Homo sapiens: one gene and its partner. The protein of the gene in region 1 purifies or fractionates together with the protein of each later gene. This does not show direct contact. Each region holds a gene or a part of one and is shown on either strand. Other genes may lie near its edges. The genes, in order: CHID1 and PTPN23.

The links.
Region 2: the proteins of CHID1 (region 1) and PTPN23 fractionate together in Homo sapiens (co-fractionation; one large-scale study listed by BioGRID). This does not show direct contact.

What each region holds. Positions count from the first base shown.
Region 1 is NC_000011.10:879,748-883,560, reverse strand, and holds part of CHID1 (chitinase domain-containing protein 1 isoform a precursor), read left to right. Parts: intron 1-257; coding exon 258-413; intron 414-1,045; coding exon of another isoform or gene 1,046-1,064; exon of another isoform or gene 1,065-2,687; intron 2,688-3,813.
Region 2 is NC_000003.12:47,390,918-47,394,730, reverse strand, and holds part of PTPN23 (tyrosine-protein phosphatase non-receptor type 23), read right to left. Parts: intron 1-3,813. UniProt on the Homo sapiens protein: Plays a role in sorting of endocytic ubiquitinated cargos into multivesicular bodies (MVBs) via its interaction with the ESCRT-I complex (endosomal sorting complex required for transport I), and possibly also other ESCRT complexes.

The DNA of each region.
Region 1 (3,813 bases):
CCTGGCCCTGGACATGCCTCATGGGGCCACTCTGCTGACAGCCCTTTCTGATGGGTGATCCTGGCCCTGGACGTGACGTCCCTCATGGGCCCGCTCTGCTGACAGCCCTTTCTGATGGGTGACTTCTGTTCTTTACAACTCTCTAGAGGTGTCAGCCGCAGCATGGGGAGGATGCACCCCTCAGTGGAGGGCCCCAATGATGGCTCAGGTGCGGGGCCCTCCCTGTTGCTGAAACTCGCTCACCCCTTGCCCTGCAGGCCTGGCCCTAATGCACCCCTGTCCTGGGTTCGAGCCTGCGTCCAGGTCCTGGACCCGAAGTCCAAGTGGCGAAGCAAAATCCTCCTGGGGCTCAACTTCTATGGTATGGACTACGCGACCTCCAAGGATGCCCGTGAGCCTGTTGTCGGGGCCAGGTGAGCCAAGGGCTCTCCCTGCCGTGCTGAAGGTGTCACTGGGCGCGGGTGGGTGTGGGTGTAAGGAGACAGAGTGATGGGGAGGGTCTCGGTCCCCTGGGGCTTCTGCCCCACAGAGTCAGAGATAGGGGCTGGGCCAGGAGCCGGTCCTGCTTGGTGCCCACCCCACCGCAGCCCCCACTGTGGTCACCACCCATAACACGGCCACACATCTGCGTGAGGCTGTCCCCACATCTGCGTGAGGCTGGGACTGAGGCTTCCCCCACCCGTCAGCCTTGCCCCACAGCATACAGGCCGGGCCGGGGCCTCCTGGGTTGAATGCTCCTCCTCCTCTCCTCTGCCCGGGAGTAATTTCCTGCTTTGTGTGTTCTTGGTATGCTCTGCGAGTGTGGTTTCTTGTTGGCATTACTTTACTTTATTTCTGGAGGACATCTTTCCTGGCTGTAGAATTCTGGCTGTCGGTTTTTTCACTGGCACCTTAAGCATGTGGCCGCCCTCTCATTCGGACAGCGTTTCACCGCCACCTCTTTCTCCTGCCTGTGTTGCTGTCCTCCCTGCTCGTAGGAATATCTTGTATTTATGGCTGGTTTTGAACAATTTTATTGACGTGTCTTCATTTTCCTTTTGCACAGTGTTCATGGAGCCTCTTGAGTCTGCATTCGTACTCTTAGCAAACTTGGAAAATTTGAGGCCAAATTCTTCAAATATTTTTTCTGTTTCTTCTCTTCTGTCTTCTCGTTTGGAGACCACAAACACTAGATCCATTGAATTTGTCCCACAGCTCACGAATACACCTTTTACCTTTTGGAATTCTTTTTTTGTTGAGACGGAGTCTCGCTCTGTCGCCCAGGCTGGAGTGCAGTGGCGCAATCTTGGCTCACTGCAAGCTCTGCCTCCCGGGTTCACGCCATTCTCCTGCCTCAGCCTCCCAAGTAGCTGGGACTACAGGCGTCTGCCACCGCGCCCTGCTAATTTTTGTATCTTTAGTAGAGATGGGATTTCACCGCATTAGCCAGGATGGTCTCGATCTCCTGACCTCATGATCCGCCCACCTTGGCCTCCCAAAGTGCTGGGATTACAGGGGTGAGCCACCACACCGGGCTGGGATTCTTTTTTCTCTGTTTTCTTTTTTTTTTTTTTTTTTGAGACAGGGTCTCACCCTGTCGTCCAGGCTGCAGTGCACTGGTGTGATCATAGCTCACTGCAGCCTCAACCTCCTGGGCTGAAGCCATCCTCCCACCTCAGCCTCGCAAATAGCTGGGACCACAGGTGCATGCCACCATGCCCCGCTAATTTTTGTATTTTTTTTGTAGAGACAGGGTTTTGCCATGTTGTCGAGGCTGGTCTCAAATTCCTAGGCTCAAGCGATCCTCCTGCCTCAGCCTCCCAAAGTGCTGGGATGACAGGTGTGAGCCCCGTGCCTGGCCTGGTCATTTCTCTTGCTGTGCCCAACCTGCCATTAATCCCATCCATCCTGAGCCCGACGTGGTCATTTCTCTCACCACCCAACCTACCGCCCGACGTGGTCCTTTCCCTCACCACCCAACCTACCGCCCGACGTGGTCCTTTCCCTCACCACCCAACCTACCGCCCGACGTGGTCCTTTCCCTCACCACCCAGCCTACCGCCCGACGTGGTCCTTTCCCTCACCACCCAGCCTACCGCCCGACGTCCTTTCCCTCACCACCCAGCCTACCGCCCGACGTGGTCCTTTCCCTCACCACCCAGCCTACCGCCCGACGTGGTCCTTTCCCTCACCACCCAGCCTACCGCCCGACGTGGTCCTTTCCCTCACCACCCAGCCTACCGTTAATCTCATCCAGTGCTTTTGTCACCTCGTGTTGTAATTCAATTTTTTTTATTTTTTATGAGATGGGGGTCTCACTATGTGGTCCAGGCTGGTCTTGAACTCCTGGGCTCAAGCGATCCTCCTGCCTCAGCCTCCCAAAGTGCTGCGATGACACGCGTGAGCCACCAAGCCCAGCCAACATGTTATAATTCTCTAGAGGCTTGCTTGGGGTCCCCTTTACGTCTTCCATGTCTCTACTAAACTTTTGCAGATTGGGATTCAGTTGTAAGAACTGCTGAGTGCCCATGTCTGCTGGTTCTGATATCAGGGTCGGTTTCAGGAGGCTGCTTTTCCTCCTTGTTTGGGGTCCTATTATGCTGCCTTCCTGTGGGCCTGGTACTCTCGGGTTGATGCCTGAGGCATTGCGAATTTTACCATGTTGCGTGCTGGGTGTTTTAGCATTTTTATAAATCATCTTAATCTTTGTTCTGGATGCAGTTGAGTTTCTTAGAAACAGTTTTAGCTGCTCACTTTTCTGGAGAACCTGGTCCTTTTTGTGGAGGCCTCGGCTGTCGTCTTTACGAGTTTTTGCAGGTCCCCCACAGGCCTGCCCTCCGTGAGGGGTGTGTGCGTGTGTCAGCCCAGGCAGGTGAGCCGAGGCCAGGCCATCACCCCTGATTCCTCCTGGTCGGCCGTGGGGAGGGGCAGAGGTAACCTGCTGGATTTGCGGGTCCTGAGGGTGGCAGCAGTGGGTAGAGGAGTATGTTGGGGCAGTGTTCCCTGCCCGGCCTCCAGGGGTGCCCTCCGTGAGCCCCTCCATGGCAGATGGCAGGTGGGCCATGTTGCAAGACCAGGGTCGTGTGTGGTGGTCCCCTTAGGGAGGCTTTCCCCCGACACTCTACGTGCACACTCCTCTCTGTCCACACGGCTGGTCCTGGGGTCCAGCACAGGCCTGGGCTCCCGCTGTTCTCTGGCTTCTGGCCCTGGGTGCGCTCTGGGTCACTGAGCAGGGCCTGACCCTGCTGCGGGGGCGGACACGAGGGGGTGCTGGCTGAGGTGGGCCTGGGGTCAGCCTGGGCATCAGGCGGGGCGAAGAGCCTGGCGTCTTCTCTCCCACGTCTCACCCAGTGAGTCATAGAGAACTCAGCCACACACTGAGACACGCGGGGCTCCGCACAGGCGAGGGCGATGCCCCAGGGCCCCTGGCTCGTTTGGGTCCCCTGTTCCTGCTGAGATGGGGCACAGGTCAGTCACTGGGTGCCAGCTCTCATGTCCCTGCAATGCAGAGTGAGGGGCCCGGCCGCCCTGTCTGCCCAACTGTCTGTTCTTTCAGTTGGGGCTGCTCTGTGCTCCTGTGTGTGCTGCACCCTCCCCCACCATGGCCCTCCTTTGATGCTGGGAATCCTGGGAAGGCTCTGGAAGCACAGCTCATGTCCCCCACCTTACCACATCCCTGACATGGTGCCTGGTTCTGGGACCTTTGGGTGGAGCCATGTACAGAGCTTGGGCTCCCAGCCCAGGATCCCCTGTGCAAAGCAAGAGGCCTCCCCATGCACCCAGCCCTGCCTCAGCTCCAGCTGTGGGCTCTGCTCACCCAGGCCTTCAGGGAAG
Region 2 (3,813 bases), on another chromosome or scaffold:
ATCTAAAAAGAATGTGTGCAGTAGCTTCCCAAAGCCTCTAGGACCAAATCTAATTTTGGCACAGAGTTTATGACCCTGCACAACCTGTTCCTGGCCGGGTGAGGTGGCTCAAGCGTGTAATCCCAACACTTTGGGTGGCCAAGGTGGGAGGATCACTTCAGGTCAGGAATTAGAGATCAGCCTGGGCAAAAGAGCAAGACCCGTCTCTACAAAAATAAACAACCTGCTCCCCACAACCTTCAAGGATTTTCCTCTGGCACCTCCCAGGGACAACCAGCCAATAGTACTTGGGAATTGCTGCTCTCAGGTATCAATGCCTATCTACATTGTCCCTACTTTCTCTACTAAGACTCAGCCGAAATGTCACTGCCTTGAACATTAGCTGCTCTTCCGCTCACATTCCAAACATGCCTCCAACATACTGTGTGCCGACGGCAGGGTCATGCCAGTGACCCCAGCCTCAAACAATAAGCATTAAGGAATGGTAGGGGCCTTATCAGATGTGTTGTATACTCAGCAAATGATTGCTTTTACAGGAAATGCAGAGGACAGATGAACACGAAAAGGAAACACTCAGAAAAATTCAGAAAATGGGGCAACAATGAACCCACTCTCTTCAAAAAATTAATGTCATGTAAAAGGAGGGGGTTGAGCAGTGGACTATTCTAGATTAAAAATGATTAAACAGGTTGGATATGGTGGCTCAAGTCTGTAATCCCAGCACTTTGGGTGGCTGAGGTCAGAGGACTGTTGAGCCCAGGAGTTCCAGAGCAGCCTGGGCAACATGAGACCCTATCTCTACAAATTAAAAAAAAAAAAAAAAATTAGCTGGGTATGGTAGCCCACGCCTGTAGTCCCAGCTACTCAAGAGGGAGAGGTGGGAGAATCAGCCTGGGAGGTTGAGGCTGTGGTGAGCTGTGTGCACACTCCAGTCTGTTTCCAAAAATAATAATAATAATAATAAATAAACAAATAAATAAGTGATTAAAGGGACAGAACACAACTAAATGCAATATGAGAACCCCAGCTGGATCTGAGTCTGCAAAAAAAAGGAAAAGTCATAAAAGATAGGGGAAAATTATTGTAGATTTTCTTAGGTATGATAATAACATTGTGATTGTGTAGAATGTCCTCACTCTTAGGAAACACATGCTGAGATGTGTCCGGGAAAAGTGATGTCCAAAACTTACTTTCAAAGGGCTTGTGGGATCTCTCTCTATCTATCTATCTATCTGGAGAGAAAACAAATAAGGTGAAATACATCCATCAAAACTAGGTAGCCGGGCACAGTGGCTTATGCCTGTAATCCCAACACTTTGGGAGGCCAAGGCAGGTGGATCACTTGAGGTCAGGAGTTCGAGACCAGCCTGACCAACATGGTGAAACCCCATCTCTACTAAAAACACAAAAATTAGCCAGGCATGGTGGTGGGCACCTGTAATCCCAACTTCTCAGGAGGCTGAGACAGGAGAATCGCTTGAACTCAGGAGGGGGAGGTTGCAGTGAGCTGAGATTACAACACTGCACTCCAGCCTTGGCCACACAGCAAGACTCCATCTTAAAAAAACAAAACAAACAAACAAAACTAGGTAACACACTGGGTGCAGTGGTTCACACCTGTACTTCCAGCACTTTGGGAGGCCGAGGCCAGAGGATCACTTGACCCCAAGAGTTCAAGGCCAGACTGGGCAACATAACAATAAATCCCATCTCTACAAAAATTTAAAAATGAATCAGCCAGGTGCAGCGCACATCTGTAGTCTCAGCTACTCCAGAGGCTGAGGCAGGAGGATCACTTGAGCCTAGCAGTTCAAGTCCAGCCTGGGCAACAAAGAGTAAATCCCATCTCTAAAAACAAAACAAAACAAAAATACTAGATAGTGAGAATTTGGGTGAGCACTGAATTATTCTTCCAATTTTTCTATATGTTTGAAATTTGGAAAACAAATGTCTTAAGAGTTGCTGAAGAGCTAAATGGTACCTGAATACCACTTTCCCCTATCAGTGGTTTTTATTTAGCCTTTTGTGGGTCCTTTGAGAATATGATAAAAGCCATGAATTAAATCCCCCTAGAAATTTTCAACTATGCACAAACATAAGGATTTACCAAGAACTTTAGGGAGCTGACAGGCATTTAACAATCTTCACTCTGATCTATCCAACTCCACCCCCTCTCCACTCCCTCCCTCAAAAATAATTATGACAACAACAACAACAAAAACACAACTACAAAAAGTGGCCTTGGGTTGGGCATGATGGCTCATGACTATAATCCCAGCACTTTGGTAGGCTGGGGTGAGAGGATCACTTGAGGCTAGGAGTTCCAGACCAGCCTGGGCAATATGGCGAGACCCCCATCTCTACGAAAAAAAATTTAAAAATTAGCCAGGAGTGGTGGTGCATGCCTGTGGTCTCAGCTAGTTGGGAGGCTGAGGCAGGACTGCTTAAGCTCAGGAGTTTGAAGCTGCAGTGAGCTATGATGGCACCACCTTACTTCAGCTGGGGTGTCAGAGTGAGACCCTGTCTGTATTAAAAAATAAAAATAGGCCAGGCACAGTGGCTCATGCCTGTAATCCCAGCAGTTTGGGAGGCCAAGGTGGGCCGATCGTTTGAGCCCAGGAGTTCAAGACAAGCCTGGGCAACATGGCAAAACCCCATTTCTACAAAAAGCACAAGAATTAGCCACGTGTGGTGGTGTGCGCCTATACTCTTGGCCAGTTGGGAGGTTGAGGTGAGAGGACTGCTTGACACCAGGAGTTCAAGGTTGCAGTGAACCATGATTGTGCCACTGCACTCCAGCCTGGGTGAGAGTGTGACACTATCTCAAAAATAATTAATTAACTAAAATATTTTTTAAAATGTGGCCTAAGCTATGAGGTAAAACTTGACTATATGAGAGAATGTTCTGTGGTTAACTCCCTTGCAGTAAGAGGTTTTGCCCACCCTTAGGTTAGAGAAAATGAGTAAAAGTGTAGCTCAGAGGTCTCGTGGGATAGAGGCCAAAGGAATCAGATGGACAGGAGACTCCTACATCCTAGAAACAAGGCTTCCCGTGATATCACTAGGAACATCTGACCCTGCTGTTCACACAATGGTGACAGAAAGATGCTGCTCCCACCCCTAGCAAATCATGCCTAGAGGTCACATTCTATCTGAATCTCATCTCCGTCCTCCTATAAGATCAGCAGCAGATGCTTAACTGAGAACCTACCACAGGTCAGGCACTGTGCTGAGTGCCTAGTAATCACTCCATCCTTAGAACAACCCTAAGAGGTAGACACTATTATCATCACCACTTTACAGATGAGGAAATGAGGAAACTGAGGCAAAGAGTTAGGGTATTCACCAAGGTCACGGTGCTAATAACTGATGGGGATATGACTGAAACCCAGGCATTTGGGCTCCAGAGCCCATGTTCTTTCCATATTAGACCATTCCATTTCTATTTAAATTGTTTTTAGTTTATTTTTTATTGTTTTATTTTATTTTCGAGACAAGGTCTTGTTCTGTTGCCCAGGCTGGAGTTACAGTGGTACTGCAACCATAGCTCACTGCAGTCTCAAACTCCTGGGTCCAAGTAATTCTCCTGCCTCAGCCTTCCAAGAAGCCGGAACTACAGGCACATACCACCATACTCAGCTAATTTTCTGTAGAGGTAGTGTCTTGCTATATTGCCCAGGCTGGTCTGGAACTTCTAGCCTCAAGCAATCCTTCTGCCTCAGACTCCCAAAGTGTTGGGATTACAGACATGAGCCATCACGCCCAAACTTTTTTTTATTTTATAGAGATGGGAGTCTCACTATGTTGCCCAGT